2 separate regions of the Homo sapiens genome follow, and region 2 is linked to region 1. Evidence: fine-mapped expression QTL. Tissue or cell type: whole blood. Region 1 holds a variant in brackets; the other region holds the start of a gene. All regions are shown on one strand. Distances are between the middles of the regions.

Region 1 (5,728 bases):
TAAAAATAGTGGGGAGAGTGCCTGTGAGTAGCATTTGTGGCGTTGCTTGGCTTTATTGCTAGAACTTTCTCTTGGTGTTCTACATGTTTTGGTCTGTGAGACCCCTCTGGGGGTGGTGTCCCAGCTGTCTTCCAAATGTTTCCCCCTTTTCCTCGCTGTCTTTCTCCTGGATGGTTTAGTCCCCTCTGTGTTTCTTGTCATCTCCTTCCTGCCTCCCCCCGGGGTCAGACTTATAAGGCCAGAGAGGTGGGCACTGGCCTGAGCCAGAGGAAGGAATTGAACTTTGGGATGACAGGGAGCTTTAGGAGAGTTTCAGCCTGGGAAAGACAGGGCAAGCTGGTGTGTGGGACAGACACAGCGCAAGCCGGCTTGTGCCTGTGGAGGCTGCAAGGAAGCCCTGGGCCCAGCCTGGGGCACGGGGAAAGCCCCCTACAGCTGGCTTCTAACTTGGGTCTCAAGAATCGATCAGGCGCACAGCTGGGGCAAAGGCTGGAGGTGGGGCTGGCTGAAGGCTTCAGGACTCTGCTGGGCCAGTGTCAAGGTGACAGCAGGCTCTGGGAAGGAAGGGTCCTGAGGGTGGGCAGCGGGAAAGGACATGAGGACCAGCGTGTGGGGGTCCTGAGGGGTGAGCAGAGGGTTTGGACATGGCCCCGTGGGCTTCCAGCAGGGGATTTGGGGCTGAATATTGGGACGTCCCCTCTGGGGTGTGTGGGGACTGCCTGTCCTTGCAGGCCCCGGCCTCAGTTTTCCCACCTATCCCCCACTCCATTGCAGGAAGGTGCTCGGGTCTTCGGGGCACTGGGTCCCATCGGTCCCTCCTCACCTGGGCTCACCCTCGGGGGTCTGGCCGTGAGCGAGCACCGGCTCAGCAACAAGCTGCTGGCTTGGAGCGGCGTCCTCGAGTGGCAGGAGGTGAGTCTCTGTGGGGCTGCGGCTGGCCTCCAGGGTCTTGTCTTGTCCCTGCGGGGACAGGCCAGGGCATCTAGGCTGTGCACAGTGACGCCCCTCCTGCCCCCACAGAAGCGCAGACCCTACTCTGACTCCACTGCAAAGCTGAAGCGGACCCTGCCCTGCCAAGCCTACGTGAACCAAGGCGAGAACCTGTGAGTGCCGGGGCGTGGCAGCCAGGGCGGTGGCAGGGGCAGTGGCTGTGGCCGTGGGGATCAGGGCAGCCCTTTCTGACCAGCTCCTTCCCATAGGGAGACCGACCAGTGGCCGCAGAAGCTGATCATGCAGCTGATCCCTCAGCAGCTGCTGGTGAGACCCGCCCCTCCCACCCCATCCACTCTGAGCACCCCCATGCCTGGCTGACCCAGCTGTCTGTCCTGTCGCCCCCAGACCACCCTGGGCCCCCTGTTCCGGAACTCCCAGTTGGCACAGTTCCACTTCACCAACAGAGACTGCGACTCGCTCAAGGGGCTCTGCCGCATCATGGGCAACGGCTTCGTGAGTGGGGCGGGCTCCCTTGTAGCACTGTGGTGACAAGTACAGCTGGAGGCAGCGCTCTGCTCACACAGTCCAGGCGGGGGTCGGGGGGTCTCCCCTGGGGCCGAGGGTA[G/C]CCCTCGTGGCCTCTCGGACCCCATCTGGAAATGACTGACTCCAGGCACCCTCCGTAGAGCACAGGGTGAAGGAACTCAGCCTGAGAGGCCTCCAGTTTCTGCATCTGTGCCCAGCTTCGAGGTGGCCCTGGGGGCGTGAGTGCAGGGAGGGACTGGGGCCAGCCCTGTTGGGGCCCAGGAGCCTGTCGGGGACACATAGCGTATGGCAGGGACCTGGTAAATGGGTGTGCTAGGCACAAGAGCCAGCCAGGAGGGAGTGGCACGTTGGGGCTTGGTATTCTGGTCTGTAAAATGGGCTAACCTCCCCGAGTGGCCTGAGCTGGCCGTGAGGGAGCAGAGCTGAGGGTGCTGAAGCAGGCGCGGTGAGTAGGTCCTCAGGCCTGGCTCCAAGGGGACCCAGGTATCCAGCCAGTGGCTGTGCAGGGACTGAGTGGGGCAGGCGCGGCCATGACCTGGACCCGGGGGGCTGCCAAGGGATCTGAGAGCGGCTTCCGCAGCACTCCAGGGTTGGGCTGGTTGAGGGGTAGAGATGACATTTTCTGAGGTAGGGAGGACAGGGGAGCCGTGCTTCCTAGGGCCACCGGGAGGCTGGAGGGAGGGAATTTGTGTAAAGCGCTTGAGATGGTGACTTTAGTACCTAGTGAGTGCTGGGTGAACCCAGCTGGTGAGGCTGTTCAGGTGACTGAGATTCTGGCGCAGGGCAGGTCAGAAAGGGGGCTTGGGCTGTGAAAGATGGCAGGTGCTGGAGAGGAGGCAGGGGTGGGGTGGGAGCGAGTTGTCTGCCCAGAGGACCTGGCTCTGGGACATTCCCAGTCCCTGTTCCCTGTTGGGACAGTCTGCCTCTACCCGTCCCAGCTGCCGTTGAGCGCCCTGGGTTCCGCTAGGGCCTCCCTTCTCCCTCAGGAGACCAGGGGCAGACCAGGGCTTGTGCCTGGCATGAGGTCTCTTAAGTGACCCGTTCCCCCTTCACCCAGCACCGTTTGTTGAGGGCCTGCCATATCTGGGCCCCGAGTACCCAGTCTGTAGGGAAAGTGGACATCCATACTCACCCCCCAGGCATGGCCCTGGGAGGCTGACTGTGCATGGCTCCAGGGAGGCCAGGGACAGGGCCCTGAGCGGGTGATCCCTGGGCTGGACACCAAGGTTGAGAAGTTAGGCCGGCAGCGTGGAGGGGACAGCACTGTGGGGGTGGCCCGGTGTGGGGAGGGGACATGGGGTTTTGGGACGGTCACACCACTTCATCTAGACACCACAGCCAGGCACATCTGTCAGGCTTAGTTCTCCCATGCGCCATCCTCAAGAGGCACCAGCACTTTATCTGTTGAGCCTTTATGTGGCACCAACTGTGTGCACTATTACCCGGTTTTACAGATGATGGAGGCCCAGAAGCAGGAGGTGGCTGGTGTTAGGTCACACAGCTAGGAGGCAGCAGAACGGTGGGGCGCTGCCTGTGCTCTTAACCCCCAGGCCAAGTCACCCCATCAGGCAGTCAGGAGGGCTGGCGGCAGGGGGTGATGTGGGTGGGAGGTAGTGCCTTCTTGGCATTCTCACCGCAGCCTGGGTGCCGGGTGCCACTCTGACCTCAGCCATGGCAGGGTCGGGGGATGCCGATGGGCGCTGCACGGGCTCTCAGAGGCCCCTCACCTATGGCCATGGCCTTGACTGTGGGGGCCTCTGTCCACCGATGATCTCCCTTCATCCCCTACAGGTGGGGCGGTCCAGGGTGGTGGGGGCACAGTGGCCCCGGGCAGTGACCACAGGGTCCTGACCCGCGGCCCCCGCAGGCGGGCTGCATGCTGTTCCCCCACATCTCCCCCTGTGAGGTGCGCGTGCTCATGCTCCTGTACTCGTCCAAGAAGAAGATCTTCATGGGCCTCATCCCCTACGACCAGAGCGGCTTCGTCAGTGCCATCCGGCAGGTCATCACCACCCGCAAGCAGGTGTGCCAGCCAAGCACAGCCCCTCTGGGGACAGAGGGGGATTAGACCCCACTGCCCTGGTTGGGCAGCCAGACTTGGTGTGGGCGGAGTGTGATGCGATGGCTGGAGCAAGGAGCTGCAGGGGAGCCCGGAGGATGCCGGGCGGGTTCCCACCAGGGCTCCATGGAAAAGCGGCCACTGGGCGGCTCTGCAGGGCTGGAGGGTGGGTCTTGGCGCGGCGGCAGGGAAGCCAGCGGAGCGGGGAGCTGGGCAGGGGTTGGGATCGTCCTGCGGCTGGAAGGCCCTGCCTGGTAACCACGTGTCCTGGTCATGCCTTGCCAGTTGAGGCAGACTCTGCAGGTCCTGTGCACCAGGTGAGGGCCGGGACCTGTCTCAGGCCACTGGGGAGCCATGGGGGGCTGTGAGCAGATGAGGGGCAGGGCCTGTTCCCCTGGGACTAGAGAATGGACCCAGCTGGGGCTAACAGGCCAAGGCTCGGAGGGAGGGATGGCAGGCCCCAGGACAGACAGACAGGTTTCCCAGGAGCCTGGGCCCCTCTTCCCACCCCGTTCCCTTCCAACAGGCAGTGGGACCTGGTGGTGTCAACTCAGGCCCAGTCCAGATCGTCAACAACAAGTTTCTGGCATGGAGTGGTGTCATGGAGTGGCAGGAGGTGAGCACTCGGCAGCCCAGGGACTTGGGACCCCCAGATCCTCACGGACTGTGGCTGGGAGGGGACACTGGCATTGGGGGTCTCCAGCCCTGAGGGCTCCTCTTTGCCTCTCCCCCAAAAGCCCAGGCCTGAGCCCAACAGTCGGTCCAAGAGGTGGCTGCCATCCCACGTCTACGTGAACCAGGGGGAGATCCTGTGAGTGCTGGGCTGGGGGGTGGAGGCAGCATCCAGGGGAGCTGGGGCTTCCTGACCCTCGTCCCTTTGTGCCCCACAGGAGGACCGAGCAGTGGCCAAGGAAGCTGTACATGCAGCTCATCCCGCAGCAGCTGCTGGTGAGGGGCTGGGGCCGGGTGCTGGAGCCTGCACGCAGTAGCTCTTCCAGAGGGCGGGGCTGGGGGCAAGAGCGCCTCCCCAGGTGGCCTGAGCTGGCTGTGAGGGAGCGGAGCTGAGGGTGCTGAAGCAGGTGTGGTGGGTAGCTCCTCAGGCTTGGCTTCAAGGGGTCCCAGGCAGCCAGCTGGTGGCTGTGCAGGGACTGAGCGGGGCAGGGGCAGCCACGACCTGCACCTGGGGGGCTGCCAAGGGATCTGAGAGCGGCTTCCACAGCACTCCAGGGTTGGGCTGGTTGAGCGGTGGAGATGACGTTTCCTGAGGTAGGGAGGACAGGGGAGTCTCAGTTTGGTCCTGGGCCCGGGGGACTCAGCGGGCTGGGAGCCGGGAGGCCGTGGTGGGAGAAGCCAGAGCTGGGGGTCCCCTCGCTTCCCCGCAGACCACCCTAGTGCCGCTGTTCCGGAACTCGCGCCTGGTCCAGTTCCACTTCACCAAGGACCTGGAGACACTGAAGAGCCTGTGCCGGATCATGGACAATGGCTTCGTGAGTGGTGCCAGCAGACGCAGGGGAGGGGCCGGCCAGGGCAGAGCGAGCCCGGACCGCTCACGGGGGCGGACATGGGAGAGGAACAGAGCACCATGTCCCAGACCAGCTGGGGAGAGAGGGTGGCTAGTGTGGGCGTGACTTCTGGGGGCTCTGTGCTGTCCCCACGGCACTGGATGGGGCACTGACCCTGGTTCTGCGGGGGCCTGCTCCTCCTCTGCCACATCAGGGCTGACTCAGCACCAACTCCGCGCTCTCCACTCCTCAGGGACAGGCGCCCTTGTCACTCCTGGTTTCCCGGGAGCTTGTGCCACATCCCAAAGGCCCATTGCTGGGCAGGGAGGGCTGTCTGCCCCCAGCAAGGTCCCAGAATATTTGGCGATTGTCTTATCTGGGGGAGGCTCAGCTGACTCCTCTTCTCTCTCTCGGGCTCAGTTTCTCCATCTGTGAGGTGGAGAAGGTTGGACTTTGGTGTTTCTGAGCCCTCCCCCCGATGTCCACCTTCCAGCTGGGCCATACTTGGGTAATATCCCGAAACTACCTTAAAATTACCTTCGACTCAGTCTGAGTAAACTGTCCACGAAGCTGTTCGTGGGTGGGGGGGGCCTGGGTGTAGGTGCTTTTACATGAAAGCAATTTCAAGCATTCCCTCAGGGGCCGGGTGCGGTGGCTCACGCCTGCAATCCCAGCACTTTGGGAGGCCGAG
Region 2 (5,782 bases), 38 kb before region 1:
TTATTACTTTTTTTTTTTTGAGACAGCGCCTCGCTCCGTCCCCCAGGCTGGAGTGCAGTGGCGCGATCTCTGTTCACTGCAAGCTCCGCCTTCCGGGTTCACGCCATTCTCCTGCCTCAGCCTCCGGAGTAGCTGGGACTACAGGCGCCCGCCACCACGCCCCGCTAATTTTTTTTTTTTTTTTTTTGGATTTTCAGTAGAGACGGGGTTTCACCGTGTTAGCAAGGATGGTCTCGATCTCCTGACCTCGTGATCTGCCCGCCTTGGCCTCCCAAAGTGCTGGGATTGCAAGCATGAGCCACTGCGCCCGGCCTGTTTTTTTTGTTTTTTTTGTTTTTTTTTTGAGACAGTCTCGCTCTGTCGCCCAGGCTGGAGTGCAGTGGCGTGATCTCGGCTCACTGCAACCTCTGCCTCCCGGGTTCAAGCGATTCTCCTTGCCTCAGCCTCTCGAGTTGCTGGGATTACAGGTGGGCACCACGACGCCCAGTGATACTGACCTCGTGATGCGCCCGCCTCTACCTCCCAAAGTGCTGGAATTACAGGCATGAGCCATCTCGCCCGGCCGAAGATTATGTTTTAAAATATTTACTGGCCATTCAAAATTTTGTGTGTGTGTTTGTGTGAAACTAGTCAGGTTTCTTTTTATTTATTTATTTTTATTTTTTTTGAGACGGAGTCTAACTCTGCCGCCCAGGCTGGAATGCAGTGGCACAATCTCAGTTGACTGCAACCTCCGCCTCCCGGGTTCAGGAGAATCTCCTGACTCAGCCTCCCAAGTAGCTGGGATTACAGACGCCCACCAGGACGGCTAATTTTTTTATTTTTAGTAGTTAGAAGGAGTTTCACCATGTTGGCCAGGCTGGTCTTGAACCCCTTACCTCGGGTGATCTGCCCGCCTTGGCCTCCCAAAGTGCTGGGATTACAAGCGTGAGCCACGGCGTCCGGCCCTGGTCAGGTTTCTTTCTATTAAAACAAATATAAAGTGGCAGGGCACGATGGCTAACACCTGGGATCGCTTTAGCCGAGGAGTTTGAGACACGCCAGAGCAACACAGTGAGACCCCATCTCTACAAAAAATTTAAAAATTAGCTGGAAGTGGTAGTGCGCGGCTGTGGTCCCAGCTGCTCCACAGGCTGAAGAGTGGCTCCAGTGCGAGTAGAGGCTGCCGTGAGCCAAGATTGGGCCACTGCACTTCAACCTGCACAACAGAAAGAGACCCTGCCTCAAAAAATAAAAATTAAAATTAAAAGATAATAGTAATGAAGTGTTTCTATTTTTCTATATTGTTATTCATCAGTAAGATTTATTTGCGTAGTACATTTCTGTCAACAAACACGCTAGAAAGATTTTCCCAGTTGGCCGTATATTTTTCAACTTGGTTTATACAGTCTTTTGGGAAAAATTAATGAAGACTACGTTTTCTAACTTTGCTGTAGTGCTAAGAAACTCCATGGCAGTCATTAAGATTTTTTCCCTTCAGATAGTTTTCGGGTTTCATTTGTTGCACTTACATTTTTAATCCACCTGGAATGTATTTACGTTCTAAGCCAGTTTCTGGCTCCTCTCCCAGAAAACAACGCTCAGGTGTTGCTTAGCAACCCGCACTTGGTTTGGTGTTCGGCTTCTTTTCGGGGGGGAAAACAACTGCCCTCCCTTCCAAGTTGAGGACGACCTTAAAGCGTCGCCTAGTAACCTCGTTTCCGCCGATGTGATTGGATCCTTCTCGCGTCCCTCCCCTAGTCCCCACGCCCGAAAGAACAGAACCAGAAACTTAATCTAACGGTTACAAAACAAGGGCAGCGGGCCCGGCGCGGTGGCTCACGCCTGTAATCTCAGCACTTTGGGAAGCCAAGGCGGGCGAATCACTTGAGGTCAGGAGTTCGAGAACAGCCTGGCCCACAGGGTGAAACTCTTTCTCTACTAAAAATACAAAAATTAGCGGGGCGTGGTTGCGGGCACCTGTAATCCCAGCTACTCGGGAGGCTGAGGCAGGAGAATCGCTTGAACCCGGGAAGCGGAGGTTGTAGTGAGCCGAGATCGCGCCACTGCACTCCAGCCTGGGCGACAGGGCGAGACTCCCGTTTCGAAAAAACAAACAAACAAAAAACAAAACACAAAAACGAAAACAAGGGCAGCGTACGCGTTGCATAGCAACCAGGTCTCCTGCCCCTCCCTTTGAGACAAGAGGCGGACCTGGACGCCCCGCTCAAAGATGGCGGCTGACTGAGCCGCTTTCAATTTATTTAGCTTTTGACAATAATTCCGTCTAACCCATCAGGCCCCTAGAAGGGCTAACTATGCCCTTTCTGAGTCTTCCACGCGGTGGGGGCGAAGGAGGATGGAGCTAGAACGAAGCCTCAGCGCGTGCCCCGCACAAACATGGCAGCATTCCCAGCAGCCCTAAACCGCCCGACGCGAGCGCGCGCGCGGCGCAGGCGCATTTCTGCTCATTCCGCGGCGTCGGCTGCGGCTGCAGTGGTGGTGGCGGGTACCGCACGGGGTATGGTCCCCGGGTCCGAGGGCCCGGCCCGCGCCGGGAGCGTGGTGGCCGACGTGGTGTTTGTGATTGAGGGTACGGCCAACCTGGGACCCTACTTCGAGGGGCTCCGCAAGCACTACCTGCTCCCGGCCATCGAGTGAGTGCTGTTTCCGCGACTCTAACCCCGCCCTCCCACTTCAGTTTCGCACAGTTTCTTGCCTGACTCCGACCTTTCACTTCCTACCCTCACAGGTATTTTAATGGTGGTCCTCCTGCTGAGACGGACTTCGGGGGAGACGTGAGTCTAGGGACTCCTGGGCCTGAGGGAGGAGGGGCCGGGGGCCTGGACTCCTGGGTCTGAGGGAGGGAGAAAGGGCTGGGCCTGGACTCCTGAGTTTGAGGGAGGAGGGGCTGGGGGTCTGGACTCCTTGTTCTGAGGGAGGAGGGCCTGGGGGCCTGGACTCCTGGGTCTGAGGGTGGAGGCGCTGGGGCCCGGATTCCTGGGTCCGAGGGAGGAGGGAGCTAGGGGCCCAGATCCCTGGGTCTGAGGGAGGAAGGGCTGGGCGTCTGGACTGCTGGGTCTGAGAAAGGAGGAGCTGAGGCCTGGATTCCTGGGTCTGAGGGAGGAGGTGCTGGGGCCTGGGCTCCTGGGTCTGAGGGAGGAGGGGCCGGGGGCCTGGATTCCTGGGTCTGAGGGAGAAGGGGCTGGGGCCGAGATTGCTGGGTCTGAGGAAGGAGGAAGCTGAGGAGTTCCTGGTTCTGGAGGAACGGGAAGCTGGGAGCCCTGATTCCTTCTCTAAGGGAAAAGGGAATTGAGGTCCCAGATTAAAAGTTTTCTGTCCTCCCCTCCCAGTATGGGGGGACCCAGTACAGCCTCGTGGTGTTCAACACAGTGGACTGCGCTCCCGAGTCCTACGTACAATGTCACGCTCCCACCAGCAGCGCCTATGAGTTTGTCACCTGGCTCGATGGCATTAAGTGAGCTTTCCCCCACTTGGGGTGGGTTGCTGGTCCCTGTGAGGGGCCGTGAATGAGTGATGGCTTGGGGTGGTTGGTGTCCCCGTGAGAGGCTGTGAATAAGTGATGGCTTGGGGTGGTTGGTGTCCCCGTGAGGGGCTGTGAATAAGTAATGGCTTGGGGTGGTTGGGGTCCCTGCGAGGGGCCGTGAATGAGCGATGGCTTGGGTTTGAGCTGCAGGAAACATCTCATACATTAAGGGATTGAAAGGACTTTGAGGGTGATTGTGTTTTTGTCAGAAGTCACTTTTGTGGTGGCTTCTGTGTGCTCAGCAATGTTGCCATCAGTTTAGAAGTAGGAAAAACCTTCCCATTCAGGGAGGCCTGGCTGAGCTCCAGCAGCCACCTTGTACTCCCTGTGTGATTGTCCCCTTTCTGTCCTCTCTTTTTCCGTCTACCCCTGTCCTCCTTTTCCAGATGGGTACATTGTAGCCTCAGTGCAGGGGGATGGGTCAGAGCCAGGATAGATCCCTCTGTGGCTTGGGTCAGAATTTTTTTTTTTTTTTTTGAAACAGTGTCTTGCTCTGTCTCCCAGGCTTGTAGTGCAGTGGCACAGTCGTGGCTCACTGCAACCTGTACCTCCTGGGTTGAAGCGATTCTTCTGCCTCAGCCTCCCAAGTAGCTGGGATTACAGGCACACGCCACTATGCCCAGCTAATTTTTTTTTTTTTTTTTGTATTTTTAGTAGAGACAGTTTCACTGTGTTGGCCAGGCTGGTCTCAAACTCCTGACCTCATGTGATCTGCCTGCCTCAGCCTCCCAAAGTGCTGGGATTATAGGGGTGAGCCACTGTTGCGGGATTCAGGACGACAGGAGAGAGCCCTCGGGTTAAAGCAGGAGAATCTTTCATTGAGTGCACTCAGGCCCAAGCCGACTCACGTCCAAAGACGGCCCAGAACAAAGGTAGCACTTGACTTTTATACACACTTCACAAAAGGGGGTGGGCTAGCTTGAAGCAAGCTTACAGTGGCGTGACAGCAGGGATACAGAGGCAGAACAAAAACAGTTAATCAAATTGTTGTAACAGGTTTATAACTCAGGATTGCACATAACCGTTGCTATGCAACCCAGATGTCCCTTATCTAGGTTAGCCTAGGCACGGGCTTATCCCATAACCTTCACTGTGGTGCCCAGGCAGCTCAGGCTTCTCATGACCTTCGCTGTACTTCTTAGATAAAACAGAATACTTGAAGTCATGAGTTACAGAGAACAGGAATCTATAAACTCATTCCATAAAACAAAGGAAAATTTGTTTTTTCTTCTCTCTATGTTGAGGGAGTGCTGGGAGAGTCTCCAAGAGCACTTTAGATAGTATTATCAAGACTTTTCCTGGGTCTGGGCTGTGCCCATTGCTGCCTCTCAGACAAGTCAGCCTAATACATAGAACTTATTTCTCTTTTTAATTTTTTTTCTTTAATTTCCTGCCTCACCACCACGCCTGGCGCTGGATCGGATTTTGATAGTTGACATTGTAGAGTCTGGAGTCAGGCAGACGGGTTAAATCCTGGCTCTTCCAGCACAGAACTAACTCTCAGACCCAGGAGTCTGTCCCCTCTGTGCCTAGTATCTCACTTGTGAAGTGGGGATGTGGATAGTACTTGTATTAGTATTTCATTGTATTACTTATTCTTAGCTGTATAATAGATTACCACCAAATAATGGCTGCATACTGCAAACATTTATTATCTAACGCAGTTTCTGTGAGTCAAGGACACAAGAGTGGCTTGGCTGGATGGTTGGGCTGAGGGTCTCACAAGGCAATAGTCAGGAGGTCGGCAGGATTGCAGCCATCCAGGGGTTTGACTGGTGGTGGGGAATCCGTTCCCAAGGTGGCGAGTCTGTGGCTGTTGGCCACAAGACCTCTCCACAGGGCTGGTTGACTGTCTAACATGGCAACTGGCATTCCTCAGATTGAGGGACCCAATAGAGAGAGCAAAGAGGAAGCCCCAGGCCTCTCTTGTTTTTGAGGAAGGGTCTCACTCTGTCACGCAGGCTGGAGTGCAGTGGCTCAGTCACGGCTCACTGCAGCCTCGACCTCCTGGGCTCAAGCTCAAGCGATCCTCCCATCTCAGCTTCCCGAGTAGCTGGAGTAGCAGGGACGGTAGCCAAATGCCAGCACACCTGGCTGATTTCTTAAAAATATTTTTGTAGGTCGGGCGTGGTGGCTCACGCCTGTAATCCCAGCACTTTGGGAGGCTGGGGCAGGTGGATCACCTGAGGTCAGGAGTTCGAGACCAGCCTGTCCAACATGGTGAAACCCTGCCTCTACTAAAAATACAAGCAATCA

Evidence for each region. PIP is the estimated chance that this variant, and not a neighbour inherited with it, causes the effect.
Region 2: it holds the start of MED25, and the variant in region 1 is fine-mapped to the expression of MED25 in whole blood (TOPMed, PIP 0.97).

What each region holds. Positions count from the first base shown.
Region 1 is chr19:49,853,632-49,859,359 of GRCh38, forward strand. PTOV1 (PTOV1 extended AT-hook containing adaptor protein) reads left to right here. Exons shown (of 12, transcript NM_001394010.1): 2 at 775-912; 3 at 1,021-1,103; 4 at 1,200-1,257; 5 at 1,339-1,446; 6 at 3,344-3,499; 7 at 4,062-4,151; 8 at 4,273-4,346; 9 at 4,426-4,483; 10 at 4,918-5,022. It overlaps MIR4749 (microRNA 4749), which reads left to right and starts at 960; the gene lies at 960-1,020. PTOV1-AS2 (PTOV1 antisense RNA 2) reads right to left here and starts at 5,658. Exons shown (of 5, transcript NR_110730.1): 1 at 5,575-5,658; 2 at 5,212-5,466; 3 at 4,923-4,995; 4 at 4,716-4,796; 5 at 2,834-3,441. RefSeq lists enhancers at 308-367, 2,552-2,611, 2,642-2,691. The variant G/C (reference allele first, on the strand shown) is at 1,559.
Region 2 is chr19:49,815,840-49,821,621 of GRCh38, forward strand. It overlaps MED25 (mediator complex subunit 25), which reads left to right and starts at 2,450. Exons shown (of 18, transcript NM_030973.4): 1 at 2,450-2,636; 2 at 2,732-2,777; 3 at 3,333-3,457. The coding sequence starts at 2,503. RefSeq lists an enhancer at 2,009-2,368 and silencers at 2,406-2,572, 2,499-2,658.